Regions from separate parts of the Homo sapiens genome. Here region 1 is linked to region 2. Evidence: fine-mapped expression QTL. A gene starts in region 2. The other region holds a variant in brackets. All regions are shown on one strand. Distances are between the middles of the regions. Region 1 overlaps NAV1 (neuron navigator 1). Region 2 holds the start of NAV1 (neuron navigator 1).

Evidence for each region.
Region 1: its variant is fine-mapped to the expression of NAV1 in whole blood (INTERVAL, PIP 0.96).

Annotation. Positions count from the first base shown.
Region 1 is chr1:201,708,841-201,721,047 of GRCh38, forward strand. NAV1 (neuron navigator 1) reads left to right here. Exons shown (of 34, transcript NM_001389617.1): 6 at 3,977-4,079; 7 at 9,550-9,915. The region is part of intron 2 of IPO9-AS1 (IPO9 antisense RNA 1); the gene reads right to left. MIR5191 (microRNA 5191) reads left to right here and starts at 10,668; the gene lies at 10,668-10,787. RefSeq lists enhancers at 4,089-4,777, 4,621-4,915, 10,784-11,430. The variant A/G (reference allele first, on the strand shown) is at 6,253.
Region 2 is chr1:201,531,326-201,543,250 of GRCh38, forward strand. NAV1 (neuron navigator 1) reads left to right here and starts at 7,802. Exons shown (of 34, transcript NM_001389617.1): 1 at 7,802-8,017. It overlaps LOC124904484 (a long non-coding RNA gene), which reads right to left and starts at 8,820. Exons shown (of 2, transcript XR_007066793.1): 1 at 8,694-8,820. CSRP1-AS1 (CSRP1 antisense RNA 1) reads left to right here. Exons shown (of 2, transcript NR_160747.1): 2 at 2,099-3,459.

The sequences.
Region 1 (12,207 bases), 180 kb after region 2:
CAACTTAGCCAATAAAACAAGCCATTAGCCAGGCACGATGGCACACACCTGTAATCCCAGCACTTTGGGGGGCTGAGTCAGAAGGATAGCTTGAGCTCAGAAGTTCGAGACCAGCTTGGGCAACATGGCAAAACCCCGTCTCTACTAAAAATGCAAAAATTAGCCAGGCGTGATGGGGCATGCCTGTAGTCCCAGCTACTCAGGAGGCTAAGGTGGGAGAATCGCTCAAAACCAGGGAAGTTGAGCCTGCAGTGAGGCGTGATCATGCCACTCCATCCCAGGAGACAGAGTAAGACCCTGTCTCCAAAAAAAAAAAAAAAACCATTGAACTTTTAGGTTACTTTTCTCATTATCACAGAGTAGCGGAAGCCCTAGATACCTTCACCCCATCCGGGATGCTCACCCTCACAGGAGATGGTGAGAAAGGGGTGAAGCTTAGTTATGGGTTGGTGGTCAGAGGTGGGGTAAGGTGAAGATCAGGAATGGATGAGGGTTGAGAGGTGAAGTAAATTCCCTTGGAAATGTAACTTACTCATATTTTTAAGCTAAAATATAAAAATTCACCTTCAGGGTCATGGGTGTGAATGTCAGATTGGCTCCTCAACCTAGGCCCCCTCTGCAGCCTCTGGAGCTCTGGAGGCCTTTCTTTTGTACACAGGTAAGTCCTCTTGGCCTGAAGCTGTGGCTGTACCACCCCGGGAATGTGTCTGTCACCTAGCAATGTGGAGGAAGCCAGACTTACCAGGGGCCCCAACCCTCCAGACCCACCCTGGGCTGAGCCTTGGAGAAGCAGAGCGGCATACCCATGATGGCCACCAGGGGCCACTGCTGGGGCACAGAGGGAGCTGCAGGGTGTAGCCTCTGCAGGGCCCCTCCAGCCTGGTAGCAGAGACCAGATCCTGGTCACCCCCAAGGAAACCAAACCCTGCCCTAACCTCCTCCCCTGTATGCCCCAAATCTATACCTGTGGGGAAGCTGCCTGGAGTCAAGTGTTCTTCCATTCGCATCTCTGTGATCTCCAGCTAGTCCCTACTTCCTGGACCTCAGCCTCCCAGCTCTCCAGAGACACAGCAGGATTAAGTGACTTTCAAGGACTCTTGTGGTTTGGCGACTCTGGGAGACTCTGAAATAGTCCCACCACACTCTGCTGATGTGGAATTGAGGAAGGGGCTAGGATAGAGGTCTTTGAGGGAAGAGATATGGAGAAAGAGGGTCAAACCTGTGACCTAGATGTCTATGACTCCCATCTGGAGCATCTGGGGCATTAGGGAATGCAGCATGACTCTCCTGAGGCTACTGTGTGGTTTAAACATTTTTCCTTAAAAAAAAAAAAAAAAGACATTTTCCTAACGTGACATGTATGTATCCCTTTACTTTTTTTCATGGGTTTTTGGAAATTTTAAAAAATTGTGGTAGCATCCATTCTTGAAATGTTCACTAAGCATCTTCTTTGTTTTTTTTTTTGAAACAGGGTCTCACTCTGTTGCCCAGGCTAGAGTATAGTGGTGTGATCATAGTTCATTACAGCATTGAACTCTTGGGCTCAAGTGATCTTCCTGCCTCAGCCTCCCAAGTAGCTAGTATTACAGGCTTGAGCCACCTGGCCAATTTTTTTATTTTTATTTTTTATATAGACAGGATCTCCCTGTGTTGCCCAGGCTGGTCTCAAACTCCTGGCCTGAAGCGATCCTCTGGCCTCGGTCTCCCACAGTGCTGGGATTATAGGCATGAGCCACTGCTTGCAGCCTAAGCGCCTCCTATACAACAGTCACCATGCTTGATGCTAGTGGTGCAGAGATGCCCTGTGATATATCAAGACAAGTATGAGTTTCTTCCTGGGCTCAACTCTGCCTTGTGCTACATGCTAGGTGTGTGACCTTGGGCAGTTTACTTGTTCTCTCTGAGTGTCAGTTTTCTCATCTGTTAAATGGGGCAGTAGCACAAATCTCCCAGAAATGTTGCAAGGATTCAAGTAGATAATGCATGCAAAGGGTCTGGCACACACAGAAGTCTCTGAGTAACTCTTGATCACCTTCCTCTTTGGGAATACACACCCCTTGGAGATGTGTGTGCCTGTCCCTCATGTCTGCCAAGCCCATAAAAAGCATCACCCTGGGCCAGAAACCCACACCTTGGCACCATGTTCTTAGTCCCCACATAGGCATTTTAGAATTCAACTTTATTTCTTGGCGAGTCTAAAAAATTGACCCTGTCTGTGTTTCATGCCAAGCCATCAATTAAAGCCATGGAGCAGCTTACAAGGTGACACTTGCCAGGATAAATAGGCATTGGCGGCCACGGAAGTGATGCCAGGACTGGGGATAGAGCTTAGGCCACTGGCATGGTGGCCTGCCATTTGTCCCTGATCCTTGCCACCAGCATGGAGGCCTGGATTCATGGTGCTGACCATGAGAGGATGTGGGGGTGGAGAAGCTCCCCCTGGGAGGGGAAAGGAGGGATGGCTGGGCTTGGGTGTGGAGCTGGTTCTCAGAAAAGGTGCCCAAAAGGCTCTGGAGAGGGCATTGCAGGCTCCCTGCCCGCCCCACCCAGCCTCCCCTCCCTGACAAGACAGTCAAGCAGCTGCCTGCCAGCCGGCCTGAGCTTAGTCTTGGGGGAATAAAAACCTCTTGAAGAGATTCAGAAATGTTCCCTTTGGCAGCTAAAAAAAACCTTACACTCCTGCTGAGTCTGTGGGCTGAGGAGGGACTGAGGGGGCGTTTGGCCTCTGCAGCAGCGGCAGAAGGCTTGCGGATGGAGGGGAAAAGGGAGCAGCCTGGAGAGCCAGAGTTCTTGGGTTTTCTCTGTTGTTTTGCCATCATCTTTCTGTCACTCCCTGACTCTCTCCTGCAGATTGTCTTTTAGGGAGGTACTGGGGGACTTGGTTCCATTCATGACTTTAGGTTCCAAAATGAAAGATAAGCCATGGGGCAGGGCCAGCTTCTCTTCATTATACTGTCCTTAGGGCCCAGGGTGGTGCCTGATGTGAAGTAAGTGCTTGATAAAGATTCATTGGATGAACTGAAGGAAGGAAGAACATTCTTTGAGTTCCTTCATGCTCAAGCACCTCTCAGTCATTTGGACGTTATTTTCACCCTGTTTGCTGTTGTAGATTCTCATCCGTCCAGGCTAATATCTGGACACCAGGGTTGAATACAATGGCTCTTGGTGATTTGGGATTCTGAGGATTGGGCCACACCCATGCATCCTTCTCACTCAGGATTGCACCACTTGTGTGGGGACTGCCCAGAGCTCACTTCAAGCTCCAGAAAATGACTGCTCATCCCTTCCACCTCCCACCAGCCACCTCACCTTTAGGAGACTATATCTGAACTAACTTCCTGGGACCCCATAGAGCAACCCCAGATATTACCAGTCAGTGCCTGGGTTTAGGTGTACTGAAGCCAGCTTGTACCAGTTCCCCAGAGCCAATTGTTAGCCCCTCTTCCTAACTCTGTGGTCAGTGACATCAGATTGGTAGATTGAAAGTGGCCATGATAGGAGGCTTTATACCAGGGAAATTGGCAAACACCACACATCGGTGTCCCCTTCCTCCGAAAGCCAGTTGTTAAACATTTACCAGCACAACCCTGGATAGGGGGTTTCAGGCAGATGTTCCAGCTCATCTCAACCACGAGAAATCTTGCCCAGGACCTCTGCTATGAGAAGCAGGGCCTCCCCAAAACAAAGCCAGAGGTAGAGGCAGTTCCTTGGGGGCTCTGAAAGGAGTGCACAGACACAGAAAGCCATGCCTGTACCCCCTGCCAGGATCTGGGGTTCAGAGGGCTCAATGGCACATGTCCAGGGCCTTTGAGAGGGCCCATTCTGTTGGTTGTCTTTGGGAAAGGGAGGAGGAAGGTGACTATCATGGCCCAGGGACTAGCCTCCTGGGGACACTGTCAATCTCCACTTCCTGACCCCCAGGATCCCAGCATTAAGTTCTCTTCACTCACCCAGCTCTTCCTTCTCTCCCTACCAGACCCAGAGTCCCAGAGAAAGAGGACAGTGCAGAATGTCCTGGATCTCCGGCAGAACCTGGAAGAGACCATGTCCAGCCTGCGAGGGTCCCAGGTGACTCACAGGTAAGCTCGAGCTGCAGAGAGGGTCATGCCCTCTGCCTTCCTGGCTCTCCACCCCATTCTGGAGGGCAGGGCCCCCGGGTCCCTCCACACCTCTGCCAGGTCAGCCAGGTGGCCTGATGCGTGGAGCCACTGCAGAAGGAGGAGGAAATCCATTTATCTCAACAAGAGAAGCTTGGCTTTGTCTTCTGTCTGCTTGTGCCTGAACATTTCATTTCATTTCAGCAAATCAGCTTGAAAATCACTAGCTTAGGAGCCAGGAAGTGGAAGCCATTACACAGCTCAATGTGTGATCTTTGATAGTCAGTCTCCTTCATTAGACCTCTGTCTCCTCAATCTGTCAAGAGAAGGTTTACTAAATGCTCTCTTCCTGTTCCTAAGTCTCCATTAAACTAGGGGTCTAGAATCAATTCCCTTCTCAACACCTGGGTCTTTTCACTCTTGTGTCAGTTAGGTGCCCCCTGGCCTCTTCTACGAGCCACTGAGGGAGGCTTGAGTGCTCAACAGGGCCCACACAGTGTCACCCAGCTCCATGCCCTGTTAGGTGTGTCCCCCTAGCCCACTCCCTGCAGAGACCTCATAGCCTCCAGCTGCATGGGGCACTCAGCCTTCCCACGGCACCTCTCTCTGGAGCAAAGTCCTGGCCACAGGCTCTGCTGTGACTCAGAATTTCCCTTGCTGGCTCCTTGGACTGCCCAGATGAGCTCATGCTGTCAGCTCCAAGTGGGGCAGAGGGCTGGGCTAAGCTCTGGGGACAGCGGGAGGCAGAACAGACAGCCAGATTGGGAAATCATGGGGGGTGTGGGGCAGGAAGGCTGTGTGAGGGCTAGGAAGCCTCCCCAGTTAGACTGGAAGTAGATTCCTCTCCAACTCCTGGGGCTGGAAAATTAAGAGCAAAGTTGGGACACAGGGGCAGTGGAAAAGGACTTTCTTTAGCCCAGGGTGTGGCCATTTGGGATTCTGAGGATGGGACCACACCCATGGACATATTTACATACCACCAATGACAAAGAACTCATTACCTTTCTTTTTTTATTTTTAACATAGGCTTTTTAAAAATATTTTGTTATTATTTTTAAAGACCGAGTCTCATTCTGTCGCCCACTGCCTCAGCCTCCCGAGTAGCTGGGATTACAGCTGTGTGCCATCACGCCCAGCTAATTTTTGTATTTTTAGTAGAGATGGGGTTTCACCATGTTGGCCAGGCCAGTCTCAAACTCCTGGCCTCAAGTGATCCACACGCCTTGGCCTCCCAAAGTGCTGGGATTACAGGCGTGAGCCACCGCGCCCGGCCAACTCACTACCTTTCAGTCACCCCGGTGCATTGTGGGATTGCAGCAACTCTGATGTGGAACTGCACTTAGTCTTAAGTAGCTTTCAGCCGTTGGCTGTAGTTCTTCCTGCTTAGATGACCCTTCTCCTTCTCCTTCCTTGTACTACTCCTCCCCCTATCCCCAGCCCATGCCCGCATCTTGGACACTCAGCCCTTTACTCCCAGACATCTCGAGTATTTTAAATGGTAAGATAAATCAAAACTCTCTGGGGATTACCTCTGCTCAGGCCAGCAGAACCCTGACTACTGAAAGGGAGGTGACCAAGGAAGTCCTGGAAAAAGGTGGATGGTGGGGGCTCCAGGACCCCCTTACATCTGTCCCTTACTGCCATCCCTCATAGCCCCAAGCCCCCAGCAGGAGCCCAAGTGAAGCAGGGATCTGGCAGAGCTTGGCTTATCAGTTTAGGACCCAGCGGATGAAATCTTGGACATCTGCCTTCCCCCATCCAAGGAAATTGTTGGAACATCTCTCAGCACCAAGTCACCCACCAGCCTCATGCCAAAGACACCAGAAAGTGCTTAGTTGCTGAGAGGGCCACACCCCAAATGACTCACTCACAGGAGTAGGAGAGAAGTAGCAGCTCCAGCCTCCTGGTGCCACTGACTCAGAGCAGCCAGCCCCCAGTCCCTCCGTTAAGCCGGACAGCTTGACCCTAGGCAGGCGCTATTGGTTTTCTGCTTCTAGTGGGAAAGGGGAGGCTTCAATCAAGCCTTTTGCATAATGCTGACTGGTTTAGGGGGAGCGTCTAGGGCCTCTGGCTTCTGCCTCCCTTTATAGGAAAGGAACCAAGAGCCCCGGAGCTGGTTTTTCTGTTTACTGTGGACCTAGAGCCACTTCCTCTC[A/G]TAGGCTTTGGTTTATATTATTCCTGTTCCACACTGGTAGCCAAAACAATGATTCCCTGACTTTTTATGGCTCTTTTTTTTTTTTTTTTGAGACAGAGTCTCACTGTCTCCCAGGCTGGAGTGCCTTGGCATGATCTCAGCTCACTGCAACCTCTGTCTCCCAGGTCAAGCGATTCTTCTGCCTCAGCCTCTGAAGTAGCTGGGACTACAGGTGCGTGCCACCACACCGGCTAATTTTTGTATTTTTAGTAGAGATGGGGTTTCACCATGTTGGCCAGGCTGGTCTAGAACTCCTGACCTCAGGTAATCCACCCACTTCGGCCACCCAAAGTGCTGGGATTACAGGTGTGAGCCACCACGCCCTGCCGGCTCTTTTACTTTTTAAAGGGCTTTCTATCAATGAGCCCTTCCCTTAGCCCTGGAAGTAGACAGGATATATACATACTCCCTGGGTTAGAGAATGAGGCTGGGGGCAGGGAGGCACCTGCCAGAGTCACGCTGGCTGATGAGGGTAGGTTCTGTACTCTGCATGCTCAGAACCCATGCCAGCTGTGTGCCAGGCACAGCGCTGGGCACTGGCTCCCCAGAACACACACAAGCTTCATCCTCGGAGCTTATGGTCCAGTGTGTGCTTCCTGCAAGGCTGTTTTCACCCAGGAACTCCCAGGATAACTGGATTCCATTCCTTTTCAGAAGCCTTTACTCCTGTGCTGCTTCCTCAATTTCTACTGGTTCATTTCCCCCAGCGAGGAGAGTCTGGGTCAGACTGTGGCTGGAGAGGAAATGAAACTGTGTCCTCCCCAGAGAAAGGCAAGCCTGAAGGGTGGGTGCAGGGCTGGAATTCAAGAACTGAGGATCTGAGCTAGAATCCCCCTCACCAAGCTTAAGTCTAGAGATGTCTAGAGATGTGTTTGGGGGAACTGAAAAAAAAAGAGAGAGCTGTGGAATAGGGGAAGAGGCAATTTTAGTACAAATAACTAAACAGGGGCAGGCCAGGAATAGAATTGAGGAACCCAGATGCTGAGTGCAGCCCTCACTCCCACACTAGTATATAACCATGGTGTAGGCTAACTACCCAAACCAGCTTCCCTGGAGATCCCCGCCACCCTCTTAGTATGGTTAGCATCATCCTCTTCCTCCCCTGTCTCATCCCATGGTCAAGGTCAGCTTGCTTTTATCAAGCACTTACTGCACAGGGCGCTGGACTGAGTTTTCTGATGAGAACTTCCTTGCTTTTTACTCACACATCCATCGTGGGTTTGCTCCTCTTTGATTCATTCTAGAGCACCAGCTCTAGGCCAGGTGCCATGCAAAGTGCTGAAATACCGTGGTGAGTGAGCAAGGCAGACAAAGTCGCACCATCACTACAGTCTCTGGCTTCGGGGCACATCGGTTTCTGTCCAAGGAGATGTGATGTCTAGGTCCACAGTAATTAGAAGCCGAAACAAGACACTGTATGAGGCAGAGCTGCAGAACACAAAGGGGTTCCTAAAGGGCTGCCAGAAGCAGGGTGCAGTGGCTCACGCCAGTAACCCCAGCACTGTGGGAGGCCGAGGTGGGAGGATTGCTTGAGTTCAGGAGTTCAAGACCAGCCTGGACAACATGGCAAAACCCCATCTCTATAAAAAATACAAAAATTAGCCAGATGTGCTCATGTGTGCCTGTCGTCCCTGCTACTTTGGGGCTGAGGCAGGAGGGTCACTTGAGCTCGGGAGGTCAAGGCTGCAGTGAGCCGTGTTTGCACCACTACACTCCAGCCTAGGCAACAGAGTGAGACCCTGTCTCAAAAATAAGTAAATAAGTAAAAAGAGTTGGCAGGGCCAGGAGGGGAGCCGCTGGGCATGGACACGGTCAGGAAGCCCTCCAGAGGGCCAGAAGCAGCTGCCACTGATTGCCCTGACTGGCCAGGGCCTCCCCCATCTTGCCCACAGGACTACTGCCAGGACCCCAGCACACTCAGTTTCAAGAGCGTTTGGATCCCTCAAGTTCTGCTGGTTAGAAAATAAGACCGTATTTTCTCAGGTCCAATAGAGACAACTTTGGAAATTTTTCTTCTTTTCAAGGAACTTGATAGAAACCAGAATGGAAAAATCAATGTCCCACTCCCATTCCAGCCCCCAAAGTGGCTAAGCAATGGATGTGTTCACAGAGCAGTGATTGCTTGGGCTCATGTAACTCATGTCCAGCCACAGATTGCCTCAGTTGCCCCAGCTTTCTTGGCCACCAAACCCCGTTTCGCTTACTTAGTCCTGTCTGGCTTAATTAGGATAAGTTATGGAGACCCTGCCTGAGGCTGATTTGGGCTGGCCCCACTGCTAGGCTAGATGGAATTATGGGTCTCAGCCTGAACCCAAGTCCAAGCCACCCCTTCAACCAGATTCCAGTTGTATTTCCTCTCTGCAGCCCGCCTGGCCCTATCTCCTTCCCTAGTCCCCCAGGTTCCCCTAGTCTCAGGCCATCCAGCACTCACCTGGGCATTGCTCCCTTGGCCTGGTCTAGCAGGGCCTGAGGCTTGAGACTCTGGACATTTGGCTTCACCCCCATGTCTGGTTCCCTGTGTCCTCTCCTTTGTCCAGTTAAGGCTGCTTCTATTCTCTGGGGAGGCTTATTTCCCCTGCTGCCCTAGGCCTGTGGCTTGGACCAGTCTTACTGGGGACCTGCCATACATCCCAGATTCCCAAAGCTTTTCCTATACTCTCTGCACTCTACTTCAGCTTTCCTATATATGATGTTTGGGAATCAGCTAGCCCTCAGCTAATTACTAGAAGAGAGGTGATGGACACACCATTAACAAAATGACCAAGGCCTTCTAAGCTCAAGTGACCAGTCTCTCCCACTTGCCTCCAGGTCTGTTGACCCCTTCCATATACCAGGCACTGTGTTCTGTCTGTACATATGTGATCCTTACAACTCTATAAGGTAGATGTTATGCCATTATCCCCATTGTACAGATGGGGAAACTGAAGCTTTAGTTATTTACTTTCCTTGGGCTCCTTTACTAACCAATACCAAAAAAGAATTCAAACCTAGGTCATATTACACAATCTAGGGTCTTAACAGTATACAGGATTTCTTCCCTAGCCACTTAATTAAGATCATTTCCTTTGTCAAACAGATAACGTATCACAAAGGTAACACACAACCAGAGGCCTCATGGAGGAGGTGGAGCTTGGGCAGGTGGGGAGGAGGTGACAGGGCCTGTGGGTGGAGGGGAGGCATTGCTGGGGTGCATGTGAGGGGACAGGGCACACGGCGGCTGTGCCAAGGACTAAGTAGTGCCTTCTGCTCTCCACCCAGCTCCCTGGAGATGACCTGCTACGACAGCGATGATGCCAACCCACGCAGCGTGTCCAGCCTCTCCAACCGCTCGTCCCCTCTGTCATGGCGCTATGGCCAGTCCAGTCCGCGGCTGCAGGCTGGTGACGCGCCCTCTGTGGGTGGGAGCTGCCGCTCGGAGGGGACGCCCGCCTGGTACATGCACGGCGAACGGGCCCACTACTCCCACACCATGCCCATGCGCAGCCCCAGCAAGCTCAGCCATATCTCCCGCCTGGAGCTGGTCGAATCCCTGGACTCGGATGAGGTGGACCTCAAGTCCGGCTACATGAGCGACAGTGACCTCATGGGCAAGACCATGACGGAGGATGATGACATCACTACCGGGTAAGCGCAGGGGCTTCTTGGATGGCGGGGGAGGATGGTGGAAAGACCACTGGGATGCGACGCCTTAAAAGTGGAGTGGAACCCAAAACGGGTTTTGGTTTGCTGTGCTGCTATGAAAGTACACAAAAGTGTGCTGTGTACACTTTGTGATTGCCTCTGAAATTCGATGTGGTTTATTCTAGACTTGGGTGTGGTGTAGGCAGGGCCTACATCCAAGGAGCTGATTGGTCAATGAAGGCGCCTCCCTCTCATTGGTCTCTGTGGCTGTCATTCTGTCACCCTCCTCCCTGGCTCTTTGCCCTCAATAAACTGGCTCAAAGAGCCTTGGAAAAGCATTTTATTCCCAGCTCTTATGCGAACTCTGTGTAGACCCTGGACAACTAAATCTGCTTTCCCATTTGCAAAAAAAAAAAAAACCAAAAAGGTTATTAACATCGTATCTGTCTACCTAAGAAGAGAAAATGAGAGCTTGTGGGTGAAATCGCTAGTCAAACAGTGAGTAGCAGCAGTAGCTCCACTTCCTTTGCCAGGGGTTCGTAACCCCTCAGTTCCCTATCCGACCCCTGTGGTCCTCAGTGTCTGCTCCTTGGGTTTCTTCCTGTGCAAACCTTCTACCAATCATGCAACTTCCTAATCCCTACCCAGCGTGTCAAATCCTTCTTTCCTGCCTTTTGCCCTGCAGGGACCCTCATCTTCTTATATTTTTCTGCCTTAATTGACAGAGTTGTGCCTATGCCTTCCAACCTTGGAAGAGTTGGCCAGGACCCCAAGCCCCCAGCACTTCATTCTTGCTGTCCTCTCCTGGTCTGGGAGGATAGAAGAGAGGATAGGAAGAATGAAGTGCTGGGCGCTTAGGGGGATCCTGGCCAACTCTTCCAAGCCCAGAGACAGGAGAGAGGCAGTGGTTCTGGAAGCTTCTCTGGAGCACCTCTTAGCCTACTGCCACTTTCACTCTCCCTTCTTGGTTTGCTGGTGCCCTCCTCCGCCAAGGGGCCATACAAGTAGCAGCAGCATCCCTTCCCTTCCTTCTCAGGGACTTAATATCTTACTGCCAGGGCCTGCCTCTCCCCAATAAAAATCCCAGACTTCAAGGGAGTGGAAAGTAGCCTCTCCTCGGAAAAGACGAGAGCCAAGCTCCAGGCCATCCACTGTTCCCCACCCCCATCTCCACCCCTGCAGAGAACTTGGAGGGATCTGGTTAGGGCTTGTCCAGCTGATGAGGCTGCTCTGGAGCAAAACAACTGACGCATGAATGGAGTTGTTTACTGCCTGTTAAATCCCAGGGGCCAGCCCAACCTCGCGCTCACGCTCAGATCCACCAGCCTGGAGCTGGGACCAGAGAAAAGCCATGCAGTGCACAGATCCTGAGCTCCTTCTGTGGTCAGAGGCCTGTGCTGGGCAGGAAGGAGAGCCAAGGTGTGTGAGGAGCTGCTCCACACAGCCTCTGCCCTAGGAAGCTGCCAGGGACTGCCTGAGGAAGTGTCAGGTCACTGCCCTCCTCTGAGAATCCCAGGAGGGTGCAGAGGGTGGCACAAGCCCTGCGGGGCTGAGTCTTTAGAAAGTCCCCCATGTGTTAGAAGAACCATAGCCCTAGACCCTAGGGAGCTTCCAGACAGGGGAAGTGATAGGACCCCTGCCCAGCACAGCTCCCAGATTGATGGAGGTGACGGGGCCCCTGCCCAGCACAGCTCCCAAACTGATGGAAACGAGATCCCTCTGAGAGCCCTTCACCCCACCAACCCACCTGATGGCCATGGCAGAAAATACCCCAAGTGTTGCAAGGTACAGGAGCCCTGCTTGGAGACGTCGCAGTCTGAGGAAGGTGGCAGGACTTCCGGCTCTTAACTAGCTGTATGAGCTTGAGCAAACTGGTTCACCTCCCCAGGCTTTCTTTCATTTGTCTATCTGTCAAATGCAGATAACAGTAGAACTTATCTCAGGGTTCTGATGAGGATTCAATGGGTTAATATATGTAAAGTACTTAGAATAATTCCTGGCTCATTGTAAATGCTCACTAAATGATAGCTATTATTTTTGTTGCTATATTATTTTTGTTGTTATTAGAGTCCCAGACTGATGGAGAGACATGATTCTTACCGTCAGGGGTGTGTAGTCTGACCAGAGTCCCACTTACTCAGCATCAGCAGCAAAGACAGATCTAGTAGCAGCTGGTCAATCCCAGGGGCATAGATAATAGGCTGTGGGGGCATGGAATGCAGGGGGAAAGGGTAGGAAAGACCCCCTTTATCCCCCCTCTAACACCCTTGCTTTATCCTCCTTCCTCTGGACAGG
Region 2 (11,925 bases):
ATCCAGGCTCTCCCAGAGCGGCACTTTAGCTGGCCAAGGCCTGGAGCAGAGTGTGTGCAGCGCTCCCACGGCCGCCTGCCCGGGCCTGCCCCCGACACATGCTTAGTGGAATTCTCCCGTGGCAGCCCAGAGTCTCCGGAACGAAGGTCTCCACAGCCAAAGCCACGCAAGAGGCTCTCCTGCTCTCATTTCCAGACGCACCCTCATCCTTGGCCTCTCCCTGCCTCAGTTCTCTTTGACTCCTCCGGTCCTTGTTGCTGCTCAGCTCCAGGGCACCCCCACCTCCCAGGACAAGTCCCCTGACTTTACAGCTTACAGGCCCAGAATAACAGATGGCCAGAGGCATCCCATTCAAGACTCCCCGCCTCCTTCCTAGCTCCTCAGTCTCTCCCACCCCAATGTGGTGGTGCCCAGGGAGGGGGTCAGGAAACCACAGAGGGCCTGTGGGAGGCGTACAGCTGGGGACAAGCGTGGGCTGGAAGAGGAGCCCAGTCTGTAGCTGAGACTCCCAGGGCCTCATGACCTTCCAGGCAGCCTCCACCGCTGCTATGACAGGCAGATGCCCGACTTTCCACCTGCTTTCTGACCTGGCTTTGGCAAGGCCTGAGCACCTGGCCTGCTTTCCCAGGAGTACAGTTACAGCAGCTGATCTAGGGAACAGGTGTGGGCTCCGTGTCACAGCTGCTGCTGAGCACATCTGTACCCACAGTGAGGAGGCTGCAGCTGCAGCAGGGCCTGTCAGTCACTCATACTCTCCCCGGAGTTGGGCTGGGGGCACTGAAAGGGCCAGGGGTGGAGAGAATCTGAGATAAGCATTCACAGAGCACCTTGCTCCTAGAGATCCCAAAGTGTGACCCCTGACAAGGTTTTCCCACAGTCAGCCTCACTGGCACCAGCAGCGTGGGAATTAGGGCTGGATTCTCCCCTTCTGCCTTGCTTCCCAGCCCTTGGGCCACAGTCAGCTCCTCCTCCTTCCTGGCTAGCTCAGCTCAGCTTTTGCAGGATGGAACTCTGAATCCTGGCTTCCAGTGGCTCTCCCAGAAAACTAGGAGGGAAGTGCTTGGAAGAATGGCTCTTTATTCATGCAAATGATTTCTTGCCATTTAAGAGCCTCAAACCACAAAATCAATTAAAGAGAAAAGGGGAAGATTTGGGGGTCTGTGCCAGCCACTGGATGCAATGCTTTACCTCCATCATCTTATCAAATCTTCCCAGCAACCCTACTGCATAGCTATTATCAAGATCATTTCTGTTTCCCAGAGGAGAATTCAAGGTTACACAGTTAGGATGCAGTGAATCTGGGATTTGATTGCCGTCCTGACTCCAAAGCTTGCACTCTGACCACTGGGCCACACTGCCTCAAATCTCCCATTCTCTGTTAAATCCAACATCTGAGCCCCATTCTTTCTCCCTTGCAGGGAATCACCTGCCTACCTCCACCTCATCCATTTCTCACCACAGCTGGATTCACCTCTACAGCCTTTACCTCCAGTCGTATTTGGCAATTCATCCTTTTCCAGCTCCTATCATCCTCCCCTACCCTCACCAAAGTGGACATCGCAGCCTCTAAATCTGAACGGAGCTGACACCTAGCACCCACCCTCTCACCAGCTACCTCTGGGTTCCCCCACCCGGTATTCCCTTCCTCACATCCAAGCCTGTTCCCCTCAGGCCCTGTCATGGCCTGAAATAGTCTTTGCCCCTGTCTACCACTCTCCAGGGTCCCTCTTGACACCTACTTCTGCTTTCCCCTCTCAAGACACCTTTTCTTGGCATTTTAAGACTATTTACTGACTATTTATTGATATAGGAAAATGCTTACAGAATGTATTAGGAGTATCTTACACTTTTTTAATAATTATGTATGTAATACATGAATAGATTCTCCTTGTAAAAAACAAACTCAAACACACAGAAAAAGTTAATGACTCCCTTGATGACTGCCAGTTTGAAGTGTTTTTCCAGACCTTAAAAAAATATACTTTCATACAAGCATATGTACATATAGAAAGATATACTTTAATGGGGCATCTTTCATCATAAATTGGATCATAATGTGCAAATTGTTTCACAACTTTTATTCTCTGTTTGTTTTCAGACAGGGTCTCACTTTGTTGCCCAGGCTGGAGTGCAATGGCACAATCATGGCTCACTGCGCCCTCCACCTCCCAGGCTCAAGCCATCCTCCTATCTCAGCCTCCTGAGTAGTTGAGACAACAGGCATGTGCCACCATGTCTGGCTAATATTTTAATAAAATTTTTTGTAGAGACAGGTTCTCCATATGTTGCCCAGGCTTTGATTCTTCTAATGCTCGGTATTAAGACTCTATGACTGTGTATTATACATAGAGTTTACATGTGAGTAAGTTCTGGGTGGAGAGACACTATTCCTTGCTAGGGCCTTAAGAGTCTGGCTGCAGCTCTGCTATCACATGGGCAAAACCAGCTACATAATTTACAAGATCCAGTGCAAAATAAAAATGTGACATTTCTTGTTAAAAATCATTGTGAATTTCAAGATGGCAACAACAAAGCATTAAACCAAGCAGGGGGCCTTTCTAAGCTTGAGCCCCCGTGTGACTGCACAGGTCATATGCCCATGAAGCTGGCTCTGCAGAGACTAGCTGACCGTTGGACTGGCTGTGTCCTGGATTCTTTTAGTTAATGCATTCCGTGTTCTGACAATGGACATTCCTGTCTCAGCCTCCACATTGGATCTGGTCCCCTGATTCTGCACCCAACATTCCTCAGCCACATTCCCTGCTCCAAAGCCAGAGCTCTATGTATTCCAGCACAAGCAAAGTCCCAGGGTCCATGCCTGCCAGTCAGCATTGCTCTGGAGGCACCCACAAAGATGGCAAAGATGGGGGGTGAAGGGGGTATTGGACAATGATATTCCTGTGCCTCGAGTGGAAAGTCTCTCAGGAGATAAGAGAGGACTGAAGTACCAACCAAGAAACCCGGGTTTCATTCCCAGCTCTGCCACTAAATTTACTGTGTCCTTAATTGGCAAGTTGCTTAACATCTTGGCACTGTTATCTCTTTATCTGTTAAAGGAGAGAGTTTGATTAGATTGTCTTTAAGACCATTCCCACTTCCAGCTCTAAAAGTCTGTATTTAAGTGACTCTAAGAGACTGTAATAATAATAGATAACATTTGTTGACCATTACCTTATGCCATTTACATGTTGATTTAATGCTCATAACAACCGTATGAGGCAGGCACTGTTATTCCCATTTTACAGTTGAGAAAATTGAGACTCAGTTTAAAACATGCATGGGGAACAAGGTAGCTTTTTGGGGTGGTGGAAATGTTCTAAAACTTGGTTCTGGTCATGGCTGCAGAACTCTGTAGATTTAGAGTTGTATATTTCGAGTGGGTGAATTTTATAATATGTAAATTGTACCTCAATAAAGCTGTTGAAAAGAAATAAAGAAATGTGCTGAACTAGTACATGATCAAGCTCTCCACACTGCTATGGAGACTATCAAGACTCCTTTCCTCTGCATATATGTAGTATTTGAAAACATGGACTCAGGAGCCAGACTCCTTCAGTTCAAATCCTACCTCTATCACTTACTAGCTGAGACCCAGACAAGACACTTGACCTCAATTTCTTTACCTGTAAAGTGGAGATAAAAAGTGGTACAGATTTCATAGGGTTGTTGTGGAGATTAAATGGGTTAATATATGTTAAATGCTTAGCATAGCAGTTGGCACACAGCAAATGCTATATAAGTAGGGACTATTATTATCTTCCATACCACAGGATTGCCACAGCCAGAACCAGGCTTCTTAAAGGGGCAGGTTTTCTCCCTGCAAACCCAACCCCTATTCTCCTGGGCCCCTTAAAGAAACACCTCCTCTTCAAAGGCCATCTTTGGAAAAACACCACGATGGCTTTCAGTACATCTCACTTCCTGGTAACAGAGAGAGAGTGAGAAACAGCATCTTCCCGATAAGGCAGTGACTCGCTCACTCTCGTAAAACATTCATTACTCTGACAGCTTTTCCCCATGGACTCTTTCTCCCAGGTCCCTGTAAGCTCCAACAGTCAACACAGAGGGCCCTTCTTAAAGGGGGCCCAGGGCCAGTCATGAGGCCCGAGTGGCCAAGGATGGAGATGCCTGTTTTGCCCATGTCCAACCCCATTCCACTAGCCTAGGAAACCCCTCACTGGTTAATGAATCAAGCTAGAAAGGACAAGGATTTTTAGTGGCCAGTCAGATTTCTATCACTGAAAAATGGGTTTTCAAGCACTGAGCCCATAACCACAGTGAATTTGACTGGGGTGGGGAGGTGGGGCGGGGTTGGGAATATGAGCTGATGCTTTCTGTTTGATAATCCCACTTCTGCTTATATGTGAGCAGCACTGCAGAAACCATTTTCTCCTCCATGATCTCACTGAATACTCACCATGCCCTTGGTAGGTGGGTATTCTTGTCCTCTGGGTGTCAACACTCCCTTTTACTGATGAGCAAACTGAGGTGATGCACTTCAGCCAGCATCAGAACCAAGGCATGGAGTCAGGTCTTCTGAAGCTGGGCCCAGTGTTTTTCCACTGTGCTTCAGAGGAGGAAGTCAGAAGCTGCCTCGGACTCCTCCTTAGAAGCTCCAGTGACGCTTATTAAGTGCTCAAGAAAATAAAGCAATGTGCTATCTTCATATTCCTGCCAAGGACCTTACAAACTGCTCTGGGAGCCCCAAACAAGACAGTCCGAAGGATAAAGACAGTCTCCCTGTGGGCCACGTGGAACGCAGGAGCTGTGAGTGTGTTCAAATCCTCAAAGTCCCATGTCAGATAACCCAAGAAACAAATTAGCATTGGTCCACAGACCTCAAGGCGGCAGGAAAACAGGCAAAGCCCCCAAAGAAATCAGGCTGGGGCTGAAAATGTCACTTGCCATACTTCCTGGGGTTCCCAAAACTCTCATCTCGTCGGAGGCCGGATCTGATACTCTATGGGAGTGACAGCAAGCTTCTGGGCTGATTTTTTAAAACTTATTTGTCAGGTTGACATTAATCCTTTCGCTACCCATCTTGTCCCAAAGCAGGATTGGCTCTAAGCTGTGGAGGAGGGGAACAGAGGGGCTGTTGGGTTTTAAGGAGCCTCAGTGAGGCCAGCAGGTCCTGGAGGCCACCTTCTCGGTGGGGAGTGGGGGTACAGGTGACTATGCCAAGGGTCTCCTGCAGTGAACCTGAATCTCCCTCCTTCCATCACTCACAAATCATTTCACGCCCCAGCACCTCTCCCACTCTCTCCATCCTCCCCTCCCCACAGCGAGGTCCTTGCCTTTACCTCTTATTGATTTTCATATTTAAGGAAAATCCATTTGCTAGACTCAGAGCAACTGAGTCATCACTGTGTTCAGACAAAAACTACTCACAAAGTAGGCATTTGGCAGAGGCCACTTCTGGGATGGGCGGGACCCTGTTTCTTACCCAAACAGTGCTCTGTCCAGAGTCTCTTCTGGCTTCTCCTCCCTGCCGCTCTGTCCTATCCACTTTCTCTTTCAGTAGCTTTCATATCCTCTGCCTGTCACCCCAACCAGACTGGCCCCTTTACTCCTTCCTCCCTCAACCTGTCCATATGCTATTATGTTTGCCTACACATACAGGTTCACTGTTGGAAATCTGTGAGTGGGACATTTTTCTGAATTTTTATTTTAGATTCAGGGGGTACATATGCAGGCTTGTTACCTGGGTATATTGTGTGATGCTGAGGCTTGGGGTACAAATGATCCCGTCACCCATATTGATTGGGACATTAGGAGCAGGGTGAGGGAGAACTTGTATGAGCAGCCACTCATAAGTGGGAGAGAAATATTGATCCTGTGTACTGATAGAAGAGATCTAACCCTTACGAAATTATAGCTTTGGCTTTCTTTTCCATTCTGGGTAGCACCCAAGGAATGACATCATCCCAGCATTACCAATGTGGATGGGGGCTATGCATCCAGCCTCACAATGGGTCAAGGAGTCATTTCACCTTCTGATAGTCATTTGCATACCTACTGTGTGGTCCTTGGTCCCTGGGGTCCCACCTTTTGAGCTCTCAAGAAAGGACAGTGCTTCTTCTTAAAGGACTAGGCTCCCCTTTGCAGGACTGGGAAGAGCACAAAAGGATTCTAGCTAGCACATCATTGAATGCCAAACTGGGCGCAGAGTTACATCTCCAAGAGTTAGATCTCCAAGAGTTAGATCTCCAAGAGTTAGTTACTCCAAGATCAAAGTAACAGCTAATGTTCACTGAGCATTTACTATGTGCCAAGCACTATTCTAAGTGTGTCACCTATAGTATCGCATTTAATCCTCCCAACACTCTTAGGAGATAGGAACCATTATTATCCCATTTTACAGATAAAGAAACTGAGGTAGCTAGAGGTTAAAGAGTTCAGTAAGTTCCCATGGCTAAAAAATCATTGATCCAGGATTTGAACTCATGCAGTCTGCCTTAAGAGCCCACACTTCTAGTCTTTATACAGAGGGTAAGGGTGTCACTCTGCAGTCCACCCCCTTATCCCGCGCCAAAAGGCAGTTCACTCCCTTCATGGACAAAAATCATACAACAAATCTTTTTCCCTGATCAGTTGGGAACTTCTTGAATGTCACTGCTTGTCCATTGTCTGGTGTCTCATCTCTCCAAATTCAAAGCCACTGTGGCCTTACTGACTGTGTGGGGCGTTCAGGGAGGACTCAAGGGCTCTCATCCTGACTCTGCTCACACTGATTTTGCTGGCAAAGAGCTGTGAGACCTCCCAGGGAGTAGGCAGTTTTGCTTTCTATCCATCAGTCCTCCAACTTGCAACCCCATGGCCCTGGGAATAGATCAGTCCTCTTATTTGTTGGCAGGAGCAGGGGAATCTGCTGGGTCCTTGGCCACAGCTACTCCCTTTCCAAAGCCTGCTTCAAAGCTCAGGTCATCTGGCTTCCTTCTGCCTTCTTCCTGCAGACCCTGGAAGTCCCCAAGCCAGGAGGCAGGGGGCTTGCACTGCTTCTGCAGTAGGTTCTGGCTGAGGGCCTTCCTCCCATTCACTCTCCTCAGGTCCTGTCATTTCCTCTCTCCTCTTCTTCCCCCTCCTCCCACTCCCAAGTCCCTGGAAGAAGGAGGAGGGGCATCGGCTGTCTGGAAGGTGGGGAGAAGTCACTTATTTTACTGAGCACCTACTATTTGCGGGGCACTTGCGGGGCCTCCCCCTCCTCTAAGACAGCTCAGACAGCATGACAGTTCAGTGGGGTGGAGAAAGAAAGGAGGTGGGTGCCCGGGGTCAGAAGTCGGGTGGAGAGGCTGGCCCATCCATCTGTCCCCTTCTCCTAAAGAACTGCGGCTGAACCAGCGAGCGGTACCCGGACGACATGTGGGGGAGGGAGGAAACCCGGCCTGGAAGTGGCGGTGGCGGGTCCCCGGGCAAAGGAAAGGCTCAATTGTGCAAAGGCTTCCTGCCCTGCCAGCTCGCGGGTCCGCCACCGAGCAGCCGCCTTTCTGCGGCCAGCCTGGGAGGCGGGACGGGAAGGCGAAGGCAGCAAAGGGTTACGGGAATAGCTTTCCAATGACAAAGTCTGGAAGGGACCCATGCCTCCGCCCCTCTGCGGGTTAAACTGGCACAGTGCAGGGGGAGGAAAGCCAGGGCGATCGGACGGATTCTCTCCTCCTGCCCGCCCCCCGGCCGCCAGGCACTCCCCTCCTGGGCCCGCCGTGGAGGCAGCCGGCGTGTGCCTGGGGCAGCGGGTCACGAGGCTCCGCCCCGGCCGCCGTTCCCGAGGGGACGGCACTTTGTTCAGGATGCCGCCTCCCTCCTCATTGTGGGGCCGGGGCCGGCGGCTGCCCTAGTGCGGGGCCCGAGGCTGGAGTGCGCGGCGGACGCCAAGCCTGGTGCGAGGGGCCGAGGCGGCCTGGGGAGCCCCGGGAAACTTTGTGCTCGCGAGAAGCGGACCCCGCACCCGCGCTGCCCTTGGGGATGCGCGACTCTGCGCGGCTGCGGCGCGGACCCGGAGCCCGGGCGGGCAGGCGCTCCGGTGAGTGGCCGGCGCGGGGCGGTCGCGCGGTCGCGGCGCTGAGGGTCTGGCGCTTCCCGTTTTGCGAGGCTTGGCTGGCAGGTCCTGCGAGGCCGAGACCAAGTCTCGGGGTAGGGGAGGTTGGTGCCCGAGGGAGGCTGTGGGCTGGGCTCGGGAGAGGCGCTGGAATAAATAACAACCAAGATGCTCGCGGCTTCCCGGGAAGGTGTGTGCCCTTTCGACCCCTATGGGACTGACTGCGCGTTTGATTCTAGAGTTGACTCTCCGGGGGGGCTGCCTAACTTCAGTCCCTCTGAGCCTCAGTTTCCTTGTTGTGAAATACCCACAATTTAAAGTGCGTTGAGATCTTATCATGAGACACCAGGTGCTGCGTTCTTATACTCGCACCCACACGGCAAGCACACACCCTACCCGCACCTCTGCCTTTCGTTGAAGCAAGAGTTAACTCCTCCCATCCCAGCAGGAGCCAGAGGAACAGCTGGGGCAGGTGACCTCGCGGGCCGTTCCAGAAAACGTTCCCCGCACCCCCGGGATGCGCCGGGAAGCGCCCTCCCGCCAATCTCCCGGAGGCCGTCCTCTCTGGCGCCCGCCCAGTGCGTCTGGGAGCGGAGAAAGTGGTCCCGGAGGAGAGGGGAGAGAGGAGAACGCAGAAATTGGGTGATCACGGGGAGCTCACCTGAGCGCTCCCGAGGCTTGGGCTCTGGTCCCTGCTAATCCCCAGAGCCGATAAAAACTGGTCATAGGATAAAGAAGCAGCTAAGTTTGCAGCGGGCAGAGGGGAGGCAGGAACTGGAGAGGACGCGAGTGGCGGGTGGCGGGGGCGGTGTGTAGGGGTGACGTCCACCCGGCAGAGAGGGTTCCTTGTCCCCTGGAGCCGAACACAGGAAAATCAGCTGGTGAGTCAATGGGACTTTGTTAGGATAGTCACAGGGCGCAGCTGGCGCCGGCTTAAGGGAAGAGCTGGATCCCCCCTTGATAACATGCTGTTTATCTGGCTTCCTGTTTCAATGATTGGGATACCATTGGCTCGTTCAAATTCAATGCTGAGAAGCCTGTGGGCACGTTCGTTCACTGTGCAAAAGCAGAGGGCTTGCCTGGGTTTTCATCTGTGGGCTAGCTCTTGTTCCCCCTACATGAAGTCCCCGGCAACTCACTTGTAATGGGACTGGAGACTTCGCAAAAAGAATGGCCTCCCCAGGAGGAGGATCTGACGATCTGACACTGCAGAGACCTTGGCTTCCTTTAGGCCAGAGATATATATGATTCCAGCTTGCTTATGACATTTTTTTAAATCCTGCTTTGACTTTTTGTTGGTGTGTCTTTGGGATTGACCTAAGAAGGGAGACAGAGGGAACAGCTCTATGGATTTTGTCTTCTAAGATGAGCTTCCTAGTAGTATGTGCTTTCACCATCAGTTTTTAGGGGAAGTTTTCAATCATCAGTTTGTAGTTCTCTATCTGGCTGTGTTGCTAACCACCTGGATGATCAGAGAGCAAATAATTCCTCATGTCTCTGTCCTGGTTTTCACTTCTGTAAAGTGGAGCCAGGAAAAAATCGCTACGGTTGGAAGAATAAAGAAGGTTTTTCAGATTTGGGCTCCAGCCCCTAGGGTCTATTTCCTGAACTTTCCAGGTGAAAGAGAACACCAGGTGAAAGAGAACACCATTTCCGGGTGAAAGAGAACAGCCCCTGATCTGAACTTCTTCAGCAGTTTATCTGATTTCCCTTGGGGCAGGTCTCACATTCTGCTTTGCATTTTTTGTTTTTGTTGATTGTCAGTGTGCCATGCTTTGTATTTTAGATATTTGGGTGTTTGTGCACATGCCTATCTTCCTGTGAGTACCTTCCAGCCAAACACCCTATCTGACCACCCACAACACTCAGCACACAGTAGGCACTTTATAGATGCTTGCCAAACTAATAGAATTGGGGAGAAAAACTAAGTAGCATTCAAAGGCCTCCTATCTCATTTAAGTGCCATTTATTCATTCTTTGGGAGTTAATTTGCTCCCCCAGACCCCCTCTACTTCTTTTTCCCTCAAAAGCAGTTCATAAAAATGTTGATTTGCCCATGGGTAAGTAGGCAAGCTTTGAATATTTGGGCTTTTTCTGGGATCTGGCTTCTTTGATAAACCTTGGCCTGGGGAAACTGAAAACAAGAATGCTGTTTTGGCCAGGTGCGGTGGCTCATGCCCGTAAGAGGGGCGGATCACCTGAGGTCAGGAGTTCGAGACCAGCCTGGACAACGTGGTGAAACCCTGTCTCAACTAGAAATATGAAAATTAGCCGGGTGTGGTGGCAGGTGCCTGTAATCCCAGCTACTCGTGAGGCTGAGACAGGAGAATTGCTTGAACCCGGGAGGCAGAGGTTGCAGTAAGCCGAGATCATGCCATTGCACTCCAGCCTGGGGGCCAAGAGTGAAACTCCATCTTTTTTTTAAAGGAGTGCTGTTTTTCCTTTCTTGCCTAATCTAGCCCCCTCCTGAGTCCCTGTGAACCTCTGGTATCAACTCAGTTTGGGCCCAGTAGAAAGGAGTGGCCTAGAATAGAAAAATCTCCTATCCATCTTTTACAATTTGTCTCTATTTTTGCCTTCCTATTTCCAATCAGTGTCACTTCCCTCTTCTTTTAAAGTTCTTTTGACTTCTTGAAGGGTTTGGCCTTTAAGAAAAACCAGAATGTCAAAGTTAAAAGGATCTCCACTCCTCCCAACCCCTGCTCTTCTCCCCTTTACAGGCAAGAATCAAGGCCCACTGAAGGGAAGGGATGGGCTCAGAGCTACACAACTGGGGTACTGCAGAAGCCCGCCTAGAATGCAGGGCTCCTGGCTTTCAGTTTAGGGCTCATTCCCTTTCAGCAAATCACTGGGAATTTTTATCTTCCTAGCGTTTCCATCTCAGCAGATGTTACTTACCTCTTAGCTAGAGAGAGGAACAGAAACATATTAGGGTCAAGACAGCTATCTCTGTGATGGAAGCATCTATCAACTTTTCGAGTCTCTGGAACATGGAGAGCTAAGAAATGTGGCAATACTTGGCAAACACTTCGTCTTTCTGGCCCCTAGTCACACACAAAAAATAATAATTAAAAACACTTTTAGTTCCTTCTTCAACTTAAAAATACCCCTCCAACTAGTCTAGCGAAAAACACCCTCCACAGTAAACCGTTTCCTGGGCCTCATCTGTTCCCTTAACCTCCTGGGAAGGCTGACTCAGGCCTGATTTCCTCCGAGAGGCCTGCGATTTTGCTTCCCAGCATCCTGTGACTCTTGAGACGTGAAGCGAGGCAGGATGGCTGAGACCCAGGCCACTCTGACCTGCCTGTGGATGTGGTTCAGGTTCTTACACATGTCCTGTGCAGTTCACACTACCACCCCATCAAATCTATTTGCTCTACTTAATTTTAATATGAGATGCACTAATATGCATATAAAATTAAAGGCTCTGATGCATGTGCCTCTGCCAAGGACCGTTACTAACAAGATGATTCCACTTCAAAAGACTGCAAGACTGTTCTGATATCCAATCCTCAGATGCTCTGAAAGCTTTCATAAATGGAATTGTTTCTTAATTTCCTTTTTGGCTTGTGTATTACTGGTGTGTAGAAACACAGCTGATTTTTGTGTGTTGATCTTGTCCCTTGCAATTTTGCTGAATTTATTAGCTCTAGTAGCTTTTTTGTTTCTGGATTCTTTGGGATTTTCTATACATAGGATCATGTCAACTGTGAATAGAAATAGTTTTACGTCTTTCTTTCCAATTTGAATGATTTTTATTTATTTTTCTTGCCTAATTGCTCTGGCTAGAACTTTCAGTATAATGTTGAGTGGCAGTGGTGAAAGCAGACATCCTTCTCTTGTTCTTGATCTTAGGGGGATTTCTTGATTTTAGCCTTTCACCAGTGAGCGTG